Linked DNA regions of Homo sapiens. The protein of the gene in region 5 purifies or fractionates together with the protein of the main gene of each other region. This does not show direct contact. Each region holds a gene or a part of one and is shown on either strand. Other genes may lie near its edges. The genes, in order: IQGAP3, MYO10, TMEM131L, RELT, SLC9A5, GMCL1 and MYO1D.

Region 1 (2,661 bases), on a different chromosome or scaffold from region 5:
CCAGTGTTCAGGAAAGGAGTGAAGCAACGGTGTTTTTGGTTGTGGTTGTTGTTGTTGCTTTTTTGGGTTTTTGTTTGTTTGTTTTCTTGAGACGGAGCCTTACTCCGTCACCCAGGCTGGAGTGCAATGGCGCAATCTCAGCTCACTGCAACCTCTGCCTCCTGGGTTCAAGCGATTCTCCTGCCTCAGCTTCCTGAGTAGCTGGGATTACAGGCGTGCGCCACCACACCGGCTTTTTGTGTATTTTTAGTAGAGATGGGGTTTCACCATGTTGGTCAGGCTGGTCTTGAACTGCTGACCTTGTGATCCGCCCGCCTCAGCCTCCCAAAATGCTGGGATTTACAGGCATGAGTCACCATGCCCAGCCGAGCAGTAGTTTTTAATCCAAATCTTTTTGCTCTGATGTTTTACCTTTTGAGTAAGAAAAATGATTTTGGCCGGGTGCAGTGGCTCACGCCTGTAATCCCAGCACTTTGGGAGGCCGAGGCGGGCGGATCACGAGGTCAGCAGTTCAAGACCAGCCTGGCCAATATAGTGAAACCCTGTCTCTACTAAAAATACAAAAATTAGCCTGGCGTGGTGGCACCTGCCTGTAATCCCAGCTACTCAGGAGGCTGAAGCAGGAAAATCGCTTGAACCTGGGAGGCGGAGATTGCAGCGATCCGAGATCGCGCCACTGCACTGTAGCCTGGGAGACCGAGTGAGACTCCGTCTCAAAAAAATAAATAAATAAAATAAGAAAAACAATTTCAAGCCCTGGTTCTGCTTGAGTTGACATTTGATCAAGTCACTGTACCTCTCTTGCCTCAGTTTCCTCATTTGTGAAGTGGGATTTCAATGCCCTACTTCAGTGGCCAGTGCCACTGGTGACTGCAGAAGGCCCCATGATGTGAGTGTTTTGTACACCATCTGACTGGACCACATTCAGAAGCCCTTAAACTCCCCTCCCTGCCTCTTCCCTCCTAGGATCTCCTGCAGCTCCAGTATGAGGGTGTGGCTGTCATGAAACTCTTCAACAAGGCCAAAGTCAATGTCAACCTTCTCATCTTCCTCCTCAACAAGAAGTTTTTGCGGAAGTGACAGAGGCAAAGGGTGCTACCCAAGCCCCTCTTACCTCTCTGGATGCTTTCTTTAACACTAACTCACCACTGTGCTTCCCTGCAGACACCTAGAGCTCAGGACTGGGCAAGGCCCAGGGATTCTCACCCCTTCCCCAGCTGGGAGGAGCTTGCCTGCCTGGCCACAGACAGTGTATCTTCTAATTGGCTAAAGTGGGCCTTGCCCAGAGTCCAGCTGTGTGGCTTTTATCATGCATGACAAACCCCTGGCTTTCCTGCCAGATGGTAGGACATGGACCTTGACCTGGGAAAGCCATTACTCTTGTGTCTGCTACTGCCCTCCCACAGTCACCCCAATATTACAAGCACTGCCCCAGCGGCTTGATTTCCCCTCTGCCTTCCTTCTCTCTGCACTCCCACAAAGCCAGGGCCAGGCTCCCCATCCCTACCTCCCACTGCATCAGCAGTGGGTGTTCCTGCCCTTCCTGAGTCTAGGCAGCTCTGCTGCTGTGATCTGCACACCCTCCAACCTGGGCAGGGACTGGGGGGATGCAGTGTGTGTTAGTGCCCATGTGGCATTGTGGCACTGTTGCCCCCCATGGCGGCATGGGCAAGATGACCTTCCATTAGCTTCAAGTCTTGTTCTCTTGTCTGTGGTCTGTTTAATATGTGGGTCACTAGGGTATTTATTCTTTCTCCCATCCTTACACTCTGGATCATTGTGCAGACTTAATCAGGGTTTTAACGCTTTCATTTTTTTTTTTTTTTTTTTTTTTTTGAGCTCAAAGAGAGTTCTCATTTTCCCTATTCAAACTAATACCCATGCCGTGTTTTTTACCTTGGATTTAAAGTCACCTTAGGTTGGGGCAACAGATTCTCACTCATGTTTAAGATCTTGTTATTTCAGCTTCATAAGATCAAAGAGGAGTCTTTCCCTTTTCTCTTTTACCCTCAGGATTCTCATCCCTTACAGCTGACTCTTCCAGGCAATTTCCATAGATCTGCAGTCCTGCCTCTGCCACAGTCTCTCTGTTGTCCCCACATCTACCCAACTTCCTGTACTGTTGCCCTTCTGATGTTAATAAAAGCAGCTGTTACTCCCACATCTGTTGTTAACCCTTATTTCATTTTCTGTAGAGCCGGCCTTTAAGTTCTGGAACACAGCTCCCTGAGAGAACTGGGGAATCCTTCCTGCAGCCTCCCCCAGCCCTCTGCCTGCCTCCGGTGTGGTCCTACTCTGCCTGCCTGAGATCGTAAAAGCTTAATGAGATGTGGCATTTATTCTCTCTTCCTTCCCCCGGGGGACAGAGAGGAGGAAGGAATGCTTAGGTTTCTATTCTGTTTTTATCGGCCACTCTGAAGACTAAAGCTGAGAAGAGAAGCCACTCTAATTTCTACCCCACCCGTTTTACACACAGTTCCTGCAGGTTCTTTTCCTGAGCCTTGGGTGGTGATATCAAAGGTGCTTAAGCCATAACTCCTTAGGTATTGTAGATTCTACACTCTGATCAAAATCTCCTTTCTGAAGGGAAAGCTCCCTCCTTTCCTCCTTGCTTTCAGAAAGTAGGGAGGGAAGTCTGTTGGGGAGGGGACAGTAGAGACA
Region 2 (3,500 bases), on a different chromosome or scaffold from region 5:
AAGGGGTGAAGGTTTTGGTTGACTGGCTGATGCGGGCCTTGAGTCTCTGCAGGGAATAAACCTCTTCGAGAGGTGGGATGGCAGCGTGCAGAGTATAATCCCCCTGCAGATACTGGAGTCGCAGGGCAGCAAGAACCTGGAGGTTTTCTTCCGGGGCTGGATGGTGGCCATGGATAACCGCTTCGTGGGCCTGAAAGGAGACAGTCAACAGCTTTCCGGTCAACGCACTGCCATGCCATGGGATGCCCACGTCGCTTGCTCCCTCACTTCATGAGGGTTTCTCTCAAACTCACCTTCCCTGACTGCCCTGGCTAAAACTGTACCCTCACCCCTGGCTCACTGCTTTAAATTTAATTTTCTCCCTAGCACAGATACCATCTAACACACGTCACATATTTTATTCCTTGTGCTCTCTCTCCTGTCAACTAGAACAGTCCCTGGAACGGAGGTTCAAATAAAATGTGTAGCAGGTTTCATTCTACAAACGAATGAAAGAGCAGCTGGTCTTGTCTTTGCTGGGAAATCCACAGGTGTGCCTCATTTCTAAGTACCAGTTAACTTACAAGGCTAAGTATTAACAGGTTTCACCCTTGCTTGCCGGCAAAGAAATCTGTTTCTAACTATTCCTTTTACCTGTTCAAACATAAATGCAAACTCCACACTGTCTTTTGGCACGTTGTCTGTGTCCAGGAAGCAGTAAAGTTTGAAGTAGAATTTCCATGGCAGGTCCCCAACCTCGGATGTGGCAGCCAGCCTACAGAGAGGAGTCAAGAGAGGCTCAGAATATGAACGAGAAGGGCCTTCAGTGACCCGCAGGGACCTGACTTTACATGGTGTATTCTAAGGACACAGACATTCTGTCCGGGCCCAGAAAACAGTGGATAGAGATGGGGATAGAGGAATAAACAGAGTGAAAAAACGTACTTTCATCCTGATTTTGCTTTAAGAAAACAAACAGGCAGCCCCTAGTTTAACCAGCTAACAAGTGTTTTCAGAGAGCCGCATTCGAATTAGTACCAGCTAAGCATTATGCTGAGTCCACGGGAAGAAAAGAAACAAAAGCCTGTTTCTTTATTACCTTTACCAAGCCTCAGATACATTATGATAACATTTATAAAAATTGATGTGAATACTCTTGTATGAGGGCTGTGTTTATACTAAGCAGGAATACCTTCGCGCTACTTCGAGGATATGAAGTCACAGATCAAATAGCGTAGGTCTACAGGCCAGGTGCAGTGGCTCACGCCTGTAATCCCAGCACTTTGGGAGGCCCAGGTGGGCGGATCACCTGAGGTCAGGAGTTTGGGACTAGCCTGACCAACATGGCCAAACCCCATCTGTACTAAAAATACAAAAATTAGCTGGGCGTGGTAGTACATGCCTGTAATCCCAGCTACTCGGGAGTCTGAGGCAGGAGAACTGCTTGAACCCAGAAGGCAGAAGTTGCAGTGAGCCAAGGTTGCGCCACTGCACTTCAGCCTGGGCAACAGAGCAAGACTCCATCTCAAAAAAAAAAAAAAGTAGGTCCATTTTATATTGTAGACATAACACATAGTTTAAAGAGTTTATAAGCTGGCTTCAGTCAATCAGCCCAATTTCAAAGCTAATGACAACTGGAAACCTAAAAAATCAAGAAATACCCAGACGGGTCCAACATGGAACTGAGAAAAGGAATGGGGTAAAAAACCACTGACAAGTTACATCACGTAAGACCGTAGCTTTATCTAGGAATCGAGAAAAATAGCGGATATGCAAAGTTAAACAGGCATCAACACAGGTAAAATAAAACTAACTCCAATACAGCGTGAAGCCACAAATGGAATGGGAAGCTCAAACCCTGAACCCTGCTCTGCAATTTCTCTTATTTGCTCTTCTGACACAGTAGGGAAAAGGAACCTACTTTTCAAACTTGGCTAAGACATCAGCTACGACGGTTCGACTTTCAATGGCTTTGTCGACGTGGCCGTTGTATTCAAACAAAGCAAACATGTTCCTGCTGTCCTCCATGGCCAGGCCTCGGATCAGCTTCTCCACCACCTGGAAGACACACCAGGGGGACTTCAGTTCCACAGGCTGCGGCCCCAACACGTGTTCCCAGAACGTGCCATCACCTGATCCCAGAGGGAGCTGCTGGCACAAGGGCGTCTCCAGCCTCCTAAAAATGTTACCCGTGTGGTCATCCCAGAATTTCAAAAGTACTATTTTCCCTTTGTTCTCTTGAGATTAGGTTTATCTCTTTCTTGCTGAAAATAACTCAGGGTATTTTGCCCATCGGTAGAGGCAGATGCTGGGCTGATTTCTTGCAAACCTATATTAACAGGAAAAGCGGGTGAAAAGCTTCAGTCCTGTCTTTTGGCTGATAAATTTATGAACTCCAAGGAACAACAGAGACTCCAGATGACGTTTTTTTTTTTTCCATAAGAAGCCTTGGGGGGTGGGGGTCGGGGTGGTGGTTATTGGATTACCACCCTTTTGGCCAACTGGTTTTATAATAGTAAGTTCAAATTTTAAAAAGAAAATGTGTTCATCTGATATTCATCTAGCTAGTCACGTGCAAACAAACACTTTGTTGCAGAAGCACTGCAATAAACCCTCATCAAAGTGGCTGGACCTGAGCCAGGTCTGCAGCTCTGCTAGACACTCAGCTGCTTCTCAGATTAGCAAGATTATGTCTCAGGTACTTTATCTCTGTGTTTCCACTCAATATATATATTTTTATCTCTATATTCGTGTGGTTGCTTCTGGGTTACATGCATTTCCTTAGTATTGAGAGCTGTACTAAGCAAACTGCAACTGTGCAGGACAGCCACTCTAATGCTGCACAATGTTCCTGACGCAGGTGTATCTGCAGCAAAGGCATCTAACAGAACAAGCAGCAGCTGCCTCTCCTCACCTCCCCAGCGGTGGTGTGGGAGTTGATGGTGATCTTGCAGGAGCCGCCGCCATGGCAATAGACCGTGGATGTCATTTCCTGCCTGTGGATCAGAGCTTCTATTTCATCTCGGGAAGGCACAAACTCTCGGCATTTGGTTTTCTTAAGAGATTCGTAAGTGAAGAGAGCGTATTTTTCCATCTCGCTTCCTGGAAACTGTTCCCGTATCCTAGGAGGCAAACACTAACTGTTAATTTTTAGACTGATGGGGGCTGGCTGCTGGGAGGAACTAGGCTGTGCCAAGGTTCTGTAGACCAAAGCAGTGAATGGTCCCCCACTGGTGAATGGAGCAAGCACCAGTGACTTCTTGGCAAGGGCCCGCTTCATTTTGTGCAGTTCAATTTAAATACAAAAAACCCCTAAAGAGCCAATGTCTCACTGGGAGCAACTGTGCTGCCAACTCACCTCTGCAGCGTTGTTAATACTTGAAAGAGTCATGCCTCATCCTATCATATGAAAATTCTTGGCCGGGCGCCGTGGCTAACGCCTGTAATCCCAGCACTTTGGGAGGCCGAGGCGGGTGGATCACCTGAGGTCAGAAGTTCGAGACCAGCCTGGCCAACACGGT
Region 3 (3,500 bases), on a different chromosome or scaffold from region 5:
TTCTCATGATAGTGAGAGAGTTCTCACGAGATTTAGTTGTTTAAAAGTGTGTAGCACTTCCCCCTTCACTCTCTCTTCCTCCTGCTCCCACCATGCAAGACGTGCTTGCTTCCCCTTTACCCCTCCACCATAACTGTGTTTCCTAAGGTCTCCCCAGAAGCAGAAGCCTGTACAGCCCACAGAACTGTGAGCCAATTAAACCTCTTTATAAATTATCCAGTCTCTGGTATTTCTTTATGGCAGTGAAAAACAGCCTAATACACCAAGTCATCCTATTAAGTGTGCAACTTCCCCATGACCTCACTGAGTAAGAGTGTACCACAGTTAAAAATCAAAAACAAATGGAAAGAACACTAATAATAATAAAGGGGGCAGGAGAAGACGTTGGGAGGTGCACATGTTAATGCCCTTCACGGTGGTAATGGTTTCACGATGTACACTTATTCCCAAACTCATCAAGATGCATACATTAAGTATGTACAGCTTTATAGGTCAGTAATTCCTTTTAAAAGTGGTTAAAAAACAGAAACAAATGGAAGAACAAGACACAAGTGATCTCCTCAGTAACCTGCTTAAAGTTGTACTGTCTCAAATCTAATCACAATCACGTGGTCTGTTTTGAATAAACCATTAAATCTTCATTTCAAGTTAATAGTATCTGTAAGTAAATAGGAACATTTTTGGAATTTCTGCAAATACCAATAATTTCAGAAAGGTGAGGAATGTAATTCAGTGAAAACTTTCAGGTACTGTTAAGCTCAAGGCTTGAGCTATTATCAAATTTAATTATACCTTTACATTATTACAGGTAGAAACCCGTGAAATAATTTGCTCACTATTTCTCCTTGGTAGTGCTGCGGCCAACCATAGCTTGTCTTTAGCCATAACTCTAATCTACATTATTTTGATCAGACAGTGAAAATGGTTACAAACATTTAAAAAGAGCTATATTCACAAGATCATTTACATTACACATAAAGCCCCACTCTTGTCAGATGACCAAGAGGTTCTGGAACGTATAACGAATGTTTGACAAGTTTAACTGTTTGATAGTTGTTTGACAAGTTGATGCCAAAAAACAAGTGTAGAAAAACAGAGCCCTAAAGAATGTCAGCAGACTTTATTTCTATTGAGAATTTTAATTAATTATTTACTACAGGCCTCTCCGAAGCAGGCAGGGGAAATGGAGTAGAAAAGGGACACATTTTTTTTTTCATTTTTTGTTTTTGCTTTTATTTTTGAGACAGGGTCTCACTCATTGCCCAGGCTGGAGTGCGGTGGCACAATCACAGCTCACTGCAGCCTTGACCTCCTGGGTTCAAGTGATTCTCCCACCTCAGCCTCCCAAGTAGCTGGGACCACAGGCCCATGCTCATGTACCACCATGCCTGGCTACATTTGGCTACTATACATATACATATACTTCTTTGGGTAGAGATGGAGTTTCACCAGGTTGCCCAGGCTGGCCTGGAACTCCTGGGCTCAAGTGATCTGCCCATCACGGCCTCCCAAATATGACACATTTTCTATTACTTACAAAATATTATGTTTCTTGATGGCAAGTATGTAGTCAAAGCCATTCATACATACCCTAGAACATTTTCTTCTCACACAATAAGCTACACCCGGGGGTGGGGGGAAGCCTCAGAATAGGAGAAGGCAGATTATTCAGGTGCCTCCAGGAGTTCTGATAGTTAGGAAAATCACTTAAGGTATTCTTAAGAGGCGGGACTGTCCCCACCTTTCCCTTTTTCCCTTTAAAGGCAATCTTATGACTAGAATGGTTTCTACAGACCATTTGTATACTTTGGGAGAAATGGCTAAAATGTGGCAAACACACTGAGTGAGTTCCCATTCTGCTGGAATCCTAACTGCCAGTCACACAGGAGACAACGTGACTGGCACTTAGGATTCTCAGCTATCAGGCAGGTTGAGTCCAGCTCAAAGACCAAGCTGTTTTCTTCAGATTCTAGAAAAGATCTTACAATGGAAACAGCACACATTTCACAAAGTAAAATACTTTTCAAAGCTAGCAAAGAACTAATGCTCAAAGCTGGAAGTAAAAACTTAAAGGTTCTTATATATATGCTTTTCTCATTCTCAAGCATTCTTTGCACTTGTGACTTACCTGTCAATTATACGCGTTTATCATTTGCCAAGTTATTGCAATGCTTTCCTCTGAAATTCAACAGAGCCCCAAACCCTTAATATTACTAAAAAAACTCCAAACCCTCCCTTCAGACTATAATTATCTTTCCCTAGATTTTTCAGTCCTTTCTTATTTTTAATATTTAAAATTCTTGAACAATTTTAAATTGTACATGGATAGCAGGCAATTTATTCACTTTTTAACATCTCGGATATTTTCCCAGGACAGTGCTGTGAACATAAAACAGTCAGAACAAAATGCATGTCCATGTACAAACTTCCCTGGGAGGAATCTCCTGCTAACATATAACTTCTGCAGACACGTAGAGGACTGTGAATTAGCACCTCTGAATTTGCTGGTCTGAACATGGTGGAAAGCAAAAGTTCTTTCCTCAGCTCTTACTTGATCTGATCAACAATCACTCTGGTACCACTTAACATGCTGCTGATCCAGCCAAACAGTATTTTTAAATTCTGGCAGTGAAAGATTTGTTGCCATTTAAAACATTATAAGCATACTAGTAATCTGTACAGGAAGGAAAGATTCTGGGCAGGTTTACCATCTACAATGATACAGGCAAACTCTATGTTTCCAGACTCCCATATTAAATTTACTCACGCTTATTAAAGTGTTATTACCTGCTCATCTTGGCTCAGCTATTGGCATTGAATGTCAAGTACTAGACAGGAGGATCCTGAAGAAGAATTCAAATCCTCTGACCTACTCTGACACTACATTTCTCATCCATGCCTTTATATTTCAACTGCTTTAAAGTATTAAGATATAGAAGGTCCCTCCCATCCATCTACCACACTGCCACGGGCATTGCATCTTGCAGGCACATATCTCTTGTGGGCACAAGCGATCACAGAAGAAGCACTTCTGGAGGGAGGATTCCCTCAACTCTAATTTCAAGTGTGTGCAAAGTCATCCTATGTCAAAGACTGTGCTCAAGCCTAAAAGACTCACGTAACAGGGGAAATGTCCAACAGGACTCACTCCATAATTCACCTTTTCACAAATGTTTTGTATTCTAGACCCCAGAGAGTGTCTGGGAGAGAAACAGAATAAGACACCCAATCACCCCATCATAATACATCCACAGACAAGGTATGCCATGGTTTGATTTGAAGATCTGGGTGAACTGCATTACCAGGGGGCATACTCACACGCCAGGTGGAGGAGACAGGGCACAGTGTCCACCCTGCAGACATAAGTCCACTTCAGGCGTGTGCACCACTGCCAGGGGAAACGGTACAAACGGGTTGGACTAAATGCACCAAGAATGCATGTGTGCAGCTGCCTAGACCACATTCCCCTCAGAGGACTCCAACTTTCTTTTAAATTAGAA
Region 4 (2,288 bases), on a different chromosome or scaffold from region 5:
TCCTCCTCACCCCCCAGCAGCACCTGGCCTTGCAGCCCACCCTGCGCCCACCCCTCCCCTGGCTGCCAGGACACTGCCACGGACGTTGCCCTCCCTGGTTTCTTTCCTGCCTCCCTAGCAGTGCCTTCTCTGTGGTGCCCTGGAGCAGCCCAGGCATCGTCCCCAGGACATTTCCTCCCAGCCCAGTCCTGGCCTAAACACCCACCTGAGTGCCTGTAGGTCTTCTTGTCTCCAGGTCTGTCTCCTGAGAGCTCTGGGCCTTCACATCTGGATGGCATGGGACATCCTCCATGGCTGTGTCACAGGTGCCCCCAGGACTGCTCCTGTTGCCCCACCCAGCTGGCCCTAAGCCCCCGACCCATTTCCCATTACCAAACCCTAGCACAGGGGTGTCCAATCTTTTGGTTTCTCTGGGCCACATTGGAAGAATTTTCTTGGGCCGCATATTAACACTAACAATAGCTGAAGAACTAAAAAGAAAAGAAAAAAGCAAAAACATCTCAATGTTTTAAGAAAGTTTATGAATTTGTGTTAGGCCCCATTCAAAGCCATATCCTGGGCCACATGCGGCCCTTGGGCCGGGTTGGAAGCTTGCCCTAGGAATTTTAGATGGAGACGCTCTGTCTTGCCGGGTGTAGCACCCGCTCCTGTGGCTCCTTTCCTCTCCACACTGGCCAAGCAGGAGCTGAATGCTTTGGAGGCTCCCTGGGCATAAGGCCCAGGTGACCACTATGTGTTGGTGCTCAGCCTTTGCACATGCTGTCCCTCTCTGTGGAACACATTCCCTGGCCCGCACATCTTCCTCACCCCCAATTACCTCCCGGGCTCCACACAGTGCATTTCCTCAGGTGCTGCGCTGACCAGTGTGGTAGCTGCTGGCCACGTGGCTATGGAGCCCTTGAAATATTTGAGTTCCAATCAAGATGTGTAAGATACACTCCAGATTTCAAAGCAAAAGCAAAAACAGCTCATTCACACTTTTTATACTGATTTTATATTGAAATGAAAATATTTTGGATAGACTGGGTTAAAAAAAAATTAAGTTCACCTGCTTCTTTTTACTTTTTGAAATGTGACTGTCAGAAAATTTAAAGTCACATATGTGGCTCACACTATTTCTGTGGGACAGCCCTGCCTCTAGCTAGGGGCTTTGGTGAGAACCAGATGAGTTGATGGGTCTCCTCTGGGCCCTGCTTCCCTGGCTGCTGAGGTGCAGGAACTGTGAGGGGAGGGCAGCCTGTCACGGTGCCCAACACAGGGCAGGGCTGGACAGGTACAAGTGGAACAGGCGGATAAGCTGGGAAGGGCACAGAGAAAAGGAGCTCCTCGTGACAGCACTTTCCCACCTTTTATTATTCAACACATGGAAGGGGGTGGAGACACAAGGATAGGGCAATGGTGAGTTTCAATAAATAAGAGAAACAGGATGGACAGGCAGTGGGCCCATGCCTGCACGGCCCCACATAAATAACCAGGTTGCTGAGCCAGAGTGGAAGTCAGGGCTGGGCCTGGCAGCCGCCTGCACTGCCCAGAAGCACTGGCACCACAGGGACACAGAAACCACTGAGGCCCAAGGTGTGCTCCAGCCCCACCAAGTCTTCTCCCTAAAGCTCCTGAGATCTTGGGGCTGGCTGGGCAGGCTAGGGCTCTGTATCACAGTCCTGCCGGGATCAAGTCTATTTTTTCAGTTTCATTAAAAACAGCTGGGGGAGGGGCAGGCACATGCATTAAGCCCCTTCCGTAGGCAGAGCCATGGATGGACAGCCCCATGGGGGCCTTGAAGGCAGAGGCCCTGGAAGCAGCAAAAACGGGGCTGGATAAAGCTACTAATGGGAGGGATGGTAGAGCCCAGCTCCCCAGTCCCCCACAACCCAGCCCAGAACCTACAAAGAGCTGAAGAGGCCCTGGGTACTGAGACGTCTCTCCTTACTTCACAGTCAGAAAAATGGACCCAGCGATGGCCACAGATGTGCCCAAGATTAGAACCCAGGGACTCACTCTCCTAGCCCAGGACTTTCTGCTACCCCTTCCCTTTATAGACCTGCTGGAAGAGGAGGGGGACGCACATCTGCTCTAGGGCCCTGTACAGAGGCAAGGGTGTGGCTAATTACCAAGGAATGGGGCCAGGGGTGACGGGCACAGGCCCCTCCCCTCTGCCAAGCCCAGCCTCTGATGATACAGAGAATCCCGTGGGCTCCTAGGATCCAGCCAGGGCAGGCACGGGGGTCGGGGCATCCTTCAGGGGAGCAACATGGCAGCAGGGCCAGGGGCGGGGCTCAGCCTGCTCC
Region 5 (3,500 bases):
TACTGACCGACTCCCTTCAGGTAGTCAGTGGCCTGCACATTGGCAGAGCCCATCTCCACAAAGGAGTTGCAGACCTTGTACAGCACCTGAGCGAGAAGAGGAGAGTCAGCAGTGAGGCGGGAAGGCAGCAACTGGGACTGCTGGGAGACAGACTGCTGGGAGAGCAGGGTGAAAGCAGACAGCATATTTCTGCCCCAGGGGACCCAAGGGAAGGGACTGAGTCTGCGCAGACCCCTAGTTGGTCAGAGCATGCAGCCTGGGGTCAGGGAATGGCAGTCAGCTGAGCACGCTCACCACGGTGACAGCATCGTTGAGCAGGGACTCGCCAAAGACGATGATAAAGAGAGTCTCATTGACGTGCACCTCCTCAAAGACAGCTAGCACGGCCACGGGGTCCACCGCCGAGATGAGGCTCCCAAACAGCAGGAAGTCCAGTAAGCCAGCCTGCACCCTAGGGGCTATTAAGGGACATGTGTAGGACAGGCCAGTCATTGAAGACGACCCAGTCTCCTGGAGCACGCCCTGGAACAAGCCCAGGCCCCACCCCTGCTGATAACAGCAAGGAAGCCCAAAGAGGACTTGGGATGGCAAAGACAGCATTAGCCTGCAGATCAGGAGACTTCAGTCAAGCTACCTATGCCTAAGGTCTGGCTTTGCCACTTACCAACTGTGTGATGCTGGTCCGTCACTGTCATGTGGCTCACCTTAGCCATGCCTCCTCATCTGCCTGCCTCACAAGATTGTTTCAAAACTCAACCCAGCCATTTGGAATAGGGAAAAAGCCCAGGTACAGTGACTCATGCCTGTAATCCCAGCACTTTGGGAGGCCGAGGTGGGCTGGATCACCTGAGGTCAGGAGTTCAAGACCAGCCTGGCCAACATGGTGAAACCCTGTCTCTACTAAAAATACAAAAAGTAGCCAGGCGCAGTGGTGCAGGCCTGTAATCCCAGCTACTTGGGAGGCTGAGGCAGGAGAATCACTTGAACCAGGGAGGCGGAGGCCGCAGTGAGCCGAGATTGTGCCACTGCACTCCAGCCTGGGTGACACAGTGAGACTCAGTCTCAAAAAATAATAATAAATAAAATAAAATAGGGAAAAAGCACTGTAGCAACAGTAATAATAACTACCAGCAAATGGAAATTGGCTGCTAACTATTTTTATTAGGGGGAATAACAAAAGAGAGTGCTTTCTCCCACACCTGTGGTTCCCGGCCAAAGGGATGTGACACAATTCTCAGCAGGTGTGGAGAACTGAATATAGTAAGAAAAGCAACACAGATCGGACTTGAATATGTCATATAATTTCTATGAGCCCCAGTTTCCCCATGTCTAAATTGAGACTAATAACAATATCTACCTCAAAAAGTTCCTTAGCCAATGCCTAACATATAGTAAGCACCCAAAAGATATTATTATCTATTACTGTTATTATGATCTGATGTCCTCCCTTCCCTTCCTGCCCCAAATAGTTCACTACCTCAATAGGGAAACCAGGTTAGAGTCCCAGGTAGCAATTGTAAACGTTTTCTTGTAATACCTTGGAAAAAGTGTGAATCATTAACCTTCAGGGTTGAATGAATTTCTTGGGTTAGGAAATAAAGAAGGTAGCAAGAGAGGGCAACCTAAAGGCAAAGAGCCTCAGTAAAACAGACCTGGGGCCAGGCGTGGTGGCTCATGCCTATAATCCTAGCACTTTGACAGGTTGAGGTGGGCAGATCACCTGAGCTCAGCAGTTCAAGACCAGCCTGGCCAACATGGCGAAACCCCATCTCTACTAAAAATACAAAAATTAGCTGGGCATAGTGACATGTGCTTGTAATCCCAGCTACTCAGGAGGCTAAGACAGGAGAATTGCTTGAACCCAGGAGGTGGAGGTTGCAGTAAGCCAAGATCATGCCATTGCACTCTAGCCTGGACAAGAGTGAGACTCCATCTCAAAAAAACAAGCAACAACAACAACAACAAACACGGACCTCTTCTGCTAACCTTGGACCTGATAGCAAACAAATGCAAGGGGTTCTATTTCCTCATGTGTAAATGTGACAAACTACACAAAAGGGTTGCTATGAAGAGTCAGTGGGATAAGTAAGGAGAGAAAACCCAGTGTAGTGCCAGCATTTGATGGATTTATAATATTTATTTTTTAAATATCTATTTATTTATTTAAAAAAATAAATGTTTAAAATAATGAATTTCTTATAGACAACATATAGTTAAGAAAAAAAAATAATAATAAAAACAGAAAACCACCCAGACCTGGCCTGGGGAGAGCCAGGACAGCAGGCCCTTGCAGAAATGATGCACAGCTATGCCTCAGGGGAGACGGGCTGGCAAATGGCAATGTGGTAACAGAGGGCAGGAGGCAACAGAATGGTAACACAGGCTCCCCAGCCTTGGCAGCCCACATACAGCTGGGAGCCAGACTCCTGCTCAGCTGTTATGCTGCAGAAGCCCAGACTGGCAGAGACCTCAATGAGGCCTGAACCCCAGCGGGAGCACTGCCTTGCACTCCAGAGGGAGGGACCTAGGATGGAGCTTTCAGGGCATGGCTCACACCAGCATGGGCCTCCAGAGCTTGAGGAGAAGGGAGAGGGGTGATGGGTCTGGCAAAGCCCAGGTCTTAGGGTCACTCACCTACAAGTCCAGCCTGCTGCAAGCCCCAGAGGGCAGCGCCTGTTGTGAAGGCATTCCAGAGTGTGCCTACCACGGCATAGGTGAGGATGGCACCCAAGTTGTCAAAGAACAGCCTGCTAGGCATGAAATAGCCTGAGTCCAACACAATAGGAGGCAGCAGGAAGAGGAAGAAGGTGCCTGGCTCCAGCTGGTACTCAGCTTTCTTGGCCACAGCCAAAACAATTCCCCCTAGCACCAGGCCCAGCAAAATCAGCAGGCAGCTCTCAGGGACCAGAGATGTTACTTTCCGAGACAGGTGAAACACTGCAATGCAAAAAGAGTGCAGGATGGATCAGTTTATGGAATATCCTCCCACACACAGGCCTATGAACTCCCAGTTTTGTTTTTTTTTTTTTGAGATGAAGTCTCACTCTGTTGCCCAAGCTGGAGTGCAGTAGCACAATCTCAGCTCACTGCAACCTTCACCTCCCGGGTTCAAGTGATTCTCCTGCCTCAGCCTCCTGAGTACGGGGACTACAGACACGCGCCACCATGCCCAGATAATTTTTTTTATATTCTTAGTAGAGACAGGGTTTCACTATGTTGGCCAGGCTGGTCTTGAACTCCTGACCTCATGATCCGCCCACCTTGGCCTCCCAAAGTGCTGGGATTACAGGTGTGAGCCACCGCGCCTGGCCAACCTTCTAAGACTGGGACCAAGGGAGGAGAAATATGCAAGACTTCTAGAATTTCCAATCTCCAGGGCTACAAACCCTCCCCTGCAGTCAAAGTCATCTGTTTCTTAGTGCTCCTGTCACACTATGGTAACCTAGGCCTTTACTGCTTTTTCCCCTTCTAGAAATGTCCCTTCCTTTATACTTTCATCC
Region 6 (3,500 bases), on a different chromosome or scaffold from region 5:
TAAACAGCATATAGTTGAGTCTTGCTTCTTTTGTCCAACAGGACAATCTAACCTTTCAATTAGTAGTTAGACCACTTATATTTAACGTAATTATTGAAATATATGTCACAGTGCATTTGAAGGAGAGAAATCACACAGCAATTTGAATACAGGAAATTTAATATAAACATTATTAACAAGGCACAGAGAATTAACTACTGAGGACAAAACGCTAAGGTAAAGAGATCCCTAGAAAATACATGTAGTAGTCAGTACTTCTAAGGCTGAGGCAGAATAGCCACAGAAGGAACAAATTTGGAATAGGTGCCCCCACCCCTTTCCCAAGCTAAGATTCAGATGATGTTGAAGGAGGTGTGGCTGTAGCCCACTGGATGGTGGAAAAGTTTGCTCAAGTGTGGTAAGCTGAGGCTGGCAAGTAGGACACTGCCTACTAGGATGCCAACAAAATTATTTGGAGGCCTTTTGGCCCAGAAGGCTAAAGATATTTACTATCTAGACCTTTACAGAAAAAGTGTACCAACTCCTAGACTACATGAGTGGACTGGAATGGAAAGTTTTTAAGGCAAACCTTTATCGGAAAATGCATATCAGAATTTAGTGTCTGTATATTACTGGAAGATGCTTGGATTATTCAGCCCAATACGGATGCAGGGTGTAAGAAAATACTAAGACGGGCCAGGCGTGGTGGCTCACGCCTGTAATCCCAGCACTTTGGGAAGCCAAGGCAAGCAGATCACTTTAGGCCAGGAGTTTGAGACCAGCCTGACCAACACAGTGAAACCCCGCCTCTACCAAAAAATACAAAAATTAGCCAGGCTTGGTGGTGCACGCCTGTATTCCTAGCTACTTGGGAGGCTGAGGCAGGAGAATTACCTGAACTCAGGAGGCGGAGGTTGTAGTGAGCCAAGATTGCGCCACTGCGCTCCAGCCTGAGCAACAGAGTAAGACCCTGTCTCAAAAACTAAACAAATAAAAATTTAAAAGAGAAAGTATTAAGATGTTGAATTTTGTGTGTTGGCCCTAGTATATACTTCCTGAGGTTGTCTGGTGTGCTCTCCCACATCAACAGACCACTTTATGAGAAGTTTTAGCTTTTAGGCCCAACTTCCACCTCATACCTTTGTCAACTGCATGTTCTACTTTTACATTTACGAGACTGTTAAAACCCACACTGTTCTACAACCAGATCTTGAGTGTTTTGTCCGTAGCTTGTCTCTAAAAAATTGAAACGACATTACATAGTTATAACTAAGTAAATATTGTTTCAGAAGAGTTAAGTAGTATGCTAGGATTATAAATCATACTTGATGGGTCCAGTGTCACAACTGCTTGTCTGTTCAAAGGGAGAAATTTTTCTAACCTCACAGTCATATGGAATCTTTTCTTGTATTCCATCAAGTGCTTAAAGTCAGGCCCTGCTTTTGTTTTTATCTTATTTGGACAGTGCCTTTTTTTGTATTGCTTTTTTATTGTCCTAGAGTTTATAATGGCCTTTCCCCCACTCTTGTCAAAATAACAATATTCCTTCATCATGGCTTCGGGTTTTTCTGAAAAAACACAGAAAAGTCTTTTGAAACACACTTTCATGGAATCCTTCTCTAAAACCTAGACCTCTTCCATCCTCCTGTTCCAATCTGGATTTGTCTACTCTTATGCTGGGACTTACTTTCACCCCATCTCTAGGATTGAATCCACTATTTTGTGTAGCCTGCATTTCTTTCTCGCTTATTTTAGGAACTATTTAATACATCCTCAAGTATTTTCCAAGGAAGGGTGCAAAAGGGGGTAATTTGTGCGTATCTAAATATAAATTTAGTCTCTTTTACTTTATTCATCCTCTGACTGGGTATGGAAATCTAAAGTAACTTTCTTCATATCTTTGATGACGCTGCTTCATTGTCTTCAGGCCTACAGTCTTGATGAAAAATTTGATTCTGGTGTAATTCTCTTTTCAGGTGACCATTTTTGCTCTCTGGAACTTGTGGAACTTTTTCTTTGGTATTTTGGGATTTAATTAGAATGTGCTTAAGTGTGGGTCTTTTAATGGCCTTGGTACTTGTTGGATCCTTATAATCTGGAGACTCATATACTACCTTAGTTTTGGGAAATTTTTTTCCATTAATTTCTTCCATAATTTCCTTTCGCTTCTTATCTTTATTTTTTCTTTCTGGGATGCCTCTTAACTGGATTTTGGATTTCTTGGATTATGCCTGTCTCTTCTTTTTTCCTTTCTTTGTCTTTTTGCTTTATGTTCTGGGAAATTTCCTTTAACTTTTTCATCACTATCATTAGGTTGTTTGGCCCTAACTATGAGGTATTTCTTTTGGACCAGGGGTGAAAATTACTAAAATATGAAATGTGCTGTGATCCATGAAAGCTTGGGAACCTCTGCTCTACAAAGCATGCCCCACCTATAACCAACTTCGTAGTCTTCTTACTCAAAGAAGAGGTACCTTGGAAATAGATCTATTTACTCAATTAAAACACCATACATCAGTTATTCATTCTTAAATATAAGTGGACAAGCAAGGAAGGATCACCCAACATGAGGAAGAAAAACAAACAAACTATTCTTTGGTTTATTTGTTTTTTTAAATTTCAGTAATCATGTCTTTAGTCTCTAAAAGCTCTTTCTTGTTCTGAGTGATCCTTTATCATAGCAGTCTATGGGGTAAATATAATAATCTCAGATCTCTAGGTATACTGGTGAGAGGGTGTTTTTTTCCTCTCTTTTCCCTGAATTATATGTTTCCAGGGGTGGAGGGAGTCTCTCTGTCTCTCTGATATGCTCTTATTCTTCCTCATGGTGGGTGATCCTTCCTTGCTTGTCCACTTATATTTAAGAAGGAGTAACTGGTGTATGGTGTTTTAATTGAGGAAATAGATCTATTTCCAATGTACCTCTTCTTTGAGTAAGAAGACTACGAAGTTGGTTATAGGTGGGGCATGCTTTGTAGAGCAGAGGTTCCCAAGCTTTCATGGATCACAGCACATTTCATATTTTAGTAATTTTCACCCCTGGTCCAAAAGAAATACCTCATAGTTAGGGCCAAACAACCTAATGATAGCAGATTGCATGGTATCTGAAAGATGTTACTGTGTTTCCTTCGAATTTAAAATACTCCACATGCCTCTCTGAGTTGGCTGTGGTGCTCTAAGTTCAGATGGTATCCTGAACTGGTGAATTTCACACACGGTTTGGGAACCATGACTTAGGGTGAATGGATTGGGAGTGAACAGGCCACAGATTCTTTAAATTTCAGAATGAGGATTGCTTTGTCTGGGCACCAGCAGCTACACTACAGCCTTAGATCTTCCATTAGCTTTGTGCTATTTCTAGAAAAACCTTGGAATCTTTTTGCCTCAGTATCTGTACTCTCCTTATCTATACTCTGTGTTCATAGAGTGGAGAAGGCACTAGTTTCCCCATTTTCTGCCCCTCTTCTTACTTCTGCCTTTGTTTCCCTGAGACCTCATCCTTCTTTTCTCCCAAGGGTTCT
Region 7 (3,500 bases), on a different chromosome or scaffold from region 5:
AGACCAGCCTGGCCAACATGGTGAAATCCCATCTCTACTAAAAATACAAAAATGAGCTGGATGTGGTGGCAGGTGCCTGTAATCCCAGCTACTCGGGAGGCTGAGGCAGGAGAATTGCTTGAACCCAGGAGGCGGAAGTTGCAGTCAGCTGAGATCACGCCACTGCACTTCAGCCCAGGTGATAGTGTGAGACTGTCTCAAAAAAAAAAAAAAAAAGAATTGTCTGTGCTATTCATTTGAGCTCAATCATATTTCACTTTATATTGATCCATTTATTAAGGTATCTCTTACTCCCAATTAAGCTATCCCTCAAAGAGTAACTTTATTAAAAGTAACCCCCACCAAAGTACCCAACCCAGCACTAAGCACACTGTAAGAATTCAAGTAGTTGGCCGGGTACAGTGACCCACGCCTGTAATCCCAGCACTTTGGGAGGACAAAGCGGGCAGATCACCTGAGGTCAGGAGTTCGAGACCAGCCTGGCCAACATGGTGAAACCCTGTCGCTACTAAAAATGCAAAAATCAGCTGGGCATGGTGGCAGGCGCCTGTAATCCCAGCTACTCAGGAGGCTGAGGTAGGAGAACTGCTTGAACCCAGGAGATGGAGGTTGCAGTGAGCCGAGAGATCATGCCACTGCACTCCAGCCTGGGCGACAGAGCAAGACTCCGTCTCAAAAAAAAAAAAAAAAAAAAAAAAAGAATTCAAGTAGTTGCTAGCTTTAATACCAGGAGATTATATGAAAAACATATAGGGTCTATAGATAATGAGGAAATTGGTTATAGATTTAAAAAAAAAACAAAAAAAAAACTCTAGACTTAAAGTCTATTACCTAGCAATAGTGCCTAGATGTTACAAACCTTCACGGAGGCTGAGAACAGTGACATGCAGAATAAAATAGTTTAGAAATCTCTTAAATATGAATATATTTCATTTTCCAAAGAGTCTAAAACGATTTCTAGAAATTAAATAGTGATACCTGGAGGGAATGTGATTATGAGAATGCATAGGGTGATAGTTACAGAGTGAATTGGGAATAGCAAGGGCATTTTTGGTTCACAGGGCTGGACCAGGGAATGGAGCAGAGACAGAGGGGTACCCACTGAGTATCTACTATGCTTCAGCCACCACCATAGGTATTTGACACATATTTTAAATGTGCTATAATTTCACAAGAACACATCATCTTTATAGATGAAAAAACTGAGGCTCAAAGAAGCTAAGTCACTTGTCCAAAGTCACACAGGTGGTAGTAAAGGAACAAAGACAAGATTAAGGTCCAGATTTGTCTATTTCGTGTTCTTGCACTCTCTGCTAGGTAATCTGAATTCCCTAGTTTGCGCCATTGCAAACTTTCATCCTTGCCCCCCAAACAAAATCAAAACAAACAAAAAAGACAAAACTTTGTCTTAGTGAGGGAGGAAGAAATGACAAGGAAGAGATGAAAATATCTAGCTCTCTAGCAGTTATGGGGTCAGGGTAGGGAGGTGAGGCCATTCGGGAAGGATTCAGGAAGAGTTAGCATTAGTTGAGTGAGAATTATATACCAGGCACTTGCTGAACATGTGATTTCATCTCAATAACCCTAAAAGGCGATCATTTTACATATAAGGAAATGAGGCTTAGGGAAGCCTATGGTAAGAGAAGTATGCTCAGCTGAAGCTGAGATTTGAACTTGGTCATTTACGTCTCAGAGCCTGTGCTCTTTCCATGATTCCCTATTGGAAGCATACTTTTGATTCTCTTTTCCCACAAATGCTCAAAACTAAAGTTTGGAAAACATTGTTCTATTCAAGAGATCTTGGCTGGGTTCGGTGGCTCATGCCTGTAATCTCAAAACTTTGGGAGGCTGAGGCGGGCGGATCACTTGAGCTCAGGAGTTTGAGACCAGCCTGACCAACATAGCAAAACCCCATCTCTACTAAAAATACAAAAAAAAAAAAAAATTAGCTGGGAGTGGTGGTACGTGCCTGTAATCCCAGCCACTAGGGAGGCTGAGGCATGAGAATCGCTTGAACCTGGGATGCAGAGGATGCAGTGAGCCAAGATCGCACTACCGCACTCCAGCCTGGGCAACAGAGCGAGGCCCTGTCTCAAAAAAAAAAAGAGATCTAGCCAGTAATTACATTGCAGTTGAACTGAAAGAAGCCTGCTTCCTACAGGAAATAAAACTGTCATCCAAATCAAGGCATCTAATAAATGATAAAGGAGAGACATACAATGCATATTTTAAAATGCTGTTACCCTCTGACCCCATTATGAATATAGTTGGCATTTTTATAGGCCATGTCGGTGAGGCTCATGAACAGGTAATCTACCCAGCGGAGCTGGAGCCACTGCTGACAGTAAAGTTCCCCGACTTAGCAGTGGCTGGGCAATAATACAATGACCCAAACCAGTTCCAGTGGCAGCACCACAAATGGGTACTAGAGAATTATCATTAAATGAGGTCACTCCTAGAGATAGTGTCCATTTTGCTTAGCTGACTCACACTTAGGTGAGAATGTCAACGAACAGCTCTCCACATAGAGCTAATATGGAGATCACTAAATAAACACATTTCTAGCTATATCAGATTCAACATTTTTGTCTCAAAGTTAAGCAAAAAGCCAAAGTGTATCTCTTTAATGTAAAAGTAGTTCCCAAATAAAAAAAAAAAATTAGCCAGGCTTGGTGGTGTGCGCCTGTAGTCCCAGCTACTCAGGAGGCTGAAGTAGGAGGGTTGCTTGAGCTGGGGAAGTCAAGGCTGCAGTGAATCATGATTGTGCCATTGCACTCCAGCCTGGGTGACAGAGTGAGACCTCGTCTAAAAAAAAGAAAAAAGAAAAGTAGATCCCATCAGAACCTGCAATGAAATGAACCAGTAGCAACTTCTAAGTGCTTGATTCCACCCACATCTGGCTCTATTTGGGAACTAAATTCAGCAGAAGTCTCCAGGGTCAAGAAATGACCCTGAATAAAAATAGTCTCGGAAATCTGTCACGGAGTAGGAAAGGAAACCAGGCGGCAGGGTGATTCACTCCAAATGGCAGCTCCAAAACCCAAATTCCCATTTTTGTCCCAATATGAAGCCAATGTACAAAACAGGCAGAGAGCAAACTGTCCTTTTCCAAAGGCCTTCAAAAGAGGTTGCCAAAGAATTTCACATGGAAGCCAAAAAGATTTAGTGTGCCATTCACCTCTCCTATAAATCTAACTAGAGCTATTTCTAACTAGAGCCCTGAACCAATGGCAGGTTTACATTTACTTGAAGACCACCCAGGGTATCTATGGGTTTTTTTCCCTGGCAAGCAAGAGACACCCTTTGTCCCACCAAATTTTCCAAATGACCAAACAGCCACAGAGAAAGAATACAGGGGTGGTGTGGTGAGTATGTGTGTGTCTGTTTCCTGCCTTTCTTCTAATCTATAACTCACTGCCCCAACACACAGTTAAGTTCTATTAAAGTACAGTATTTTGAGAAGATTGTCTGCTAAAAAAAAAAAAAAAGAAAGAAAAAAA

The links.
Region 1: the proteins of SLC9A5 (region 5) and IQGAP3 purify together in Homo sapiens (affinity purification with mass spectrometry; one large-scale study listed by BioGRID and IntAct). This does not show direct contact.
Region 2: the proteins of SLC9A5 (region 5) and MYO10 purify together in Homo sapiens (affinity purification with mass spectrometry; one large-scale study listed by BioGRID and IntAct). This does not show direct contact.
Region 3: the proteins of SLC9A5 (region 5) and TMEM131L purify together in Homo sapiens (affinity purification with mass spectrometry; one large-scale study listed by BioGRID and IntAct). This does not show direct contact.
Region 4: the proteins of SLC9A5 (region 5) and RELT purify together in Homo sapiens (affinity purification with mass spectrometry; one large-scale study listed by BioGRID and IntAct). This does not show direct contact.
Region 6: the proteins of SLC9A5 (region 5) and GMCL1 purify together in Homo sapiens (affinity purification with mass spectrometry; one large-scale study listed by BioGRID and IntAct). This does not show direct contact.
Region 7: the proteins of SLC9A5 (region 5) and MYO1D purify together in Homo sapiens (affinity purification with mass spectrometry; one large-scale study listed by BioGRID and IntAct). This does not show direct contact.

The regions. Positions count from the first base shown.
Region 1 is NC_000001.11:156,524,905-156,527,565, reverse strand, and holds the end of IQGAP3 (ras GTPase-activating-like protein IQGAP3), read left to right. Parts: intron 1-966; coding exon 967-1,080; 3' UTR 1,081-2,161; downstream 2,162-2,661.
Region 2 is NC_000005.10:16,670,789-16,674,288, forward strand, and holds part of MYO10 (unconventional myosin-X), read right to left. Parts: intron 3,102-3,500; coding exon 2,894-3,101; intron 2,038-2,893; coding exon 1,901-2,037; intron 755-1,900; coding exon 634-754; intron 191-633; coding exon 1-190. UniProt on the Homo sapiens protein: Myosins are actin-based motor molecules with ATPase activity. Unconventional myosins serve in intracellular movements. MYO10 binds to actin filaments and actin bundles and functions as a plus end-directed motor.
Region 3 is NC_000004.12:153,605,860-153,609,359, reverse strand, and holds part of TMEM131L (transmembrane protein 131-like isoform 1 precursor), read right to left. Parts: intron 1-3,500.
Region 4 is NC_000011.10:73,395,687-73,397,974, reverse strand, and holds the end of RELT (tumor necrosis factor receptor superfamily member 19L isoform 1 precursor), read right to left. Parts: 3' UTR 501-2,288; downstream 1-500. UniProt on the Homo sapiens protein: May play a role in apoptosis. Induces activation of MAPK14/p38 and MAPK8/JNK MAPK cascades, when overexpressed. Involved in dental enamel formation.
Region 5 is NC_000016.10:67,251,979-67,255,478, reverse strand, and holds part of SLC9A5 (sodium/hydrogen exchanger 5 isoform 1 precursor), read right to left. Parts: intron 2,938-3,500; coding exon 2,635-2,937; intron 459-2,634; coding exon 295-458; intron 87-294; coding exon 8-86; intron 1-7. UniProt on the Homo sapiens protein: Plasma membrane Na(+)/H(+) antiporter. Mediates the electroneutral exchange of intracellular H(+) ions for extracellular Na(+) in 1:1 stoichiometry, thus regulating intracellular pH homeostasis, in particular in neural tissues.
Region 6 is NC_000002.12:69,832,660-69,836,159, forward strand, and holds part of GMCL1 (germ cell-less protein-like 1), read left to right. Parts: intron 1-3,500. UniProt on the Homo sapiens protein: Possible function in spermatogenesis. Enhances the degradation of MDM2 and increases the amount of p53 probably by modulating the nucleocytoplasmic transport.
Region 7 is NC_000017.11:32,867,125-32,870,624, forward strand, and holds part of MYO1D (unconventional myosin-Id), read right to left. Parts: intron 1-3,500. UniProt on the Homo sapiens protein: Unconventional myosin that functions as actin-based motor protein with ATPase activity. Plays a role in endosomal protein trafficking, and especially in the transfer of cargo proteins from early to recycling endosomes.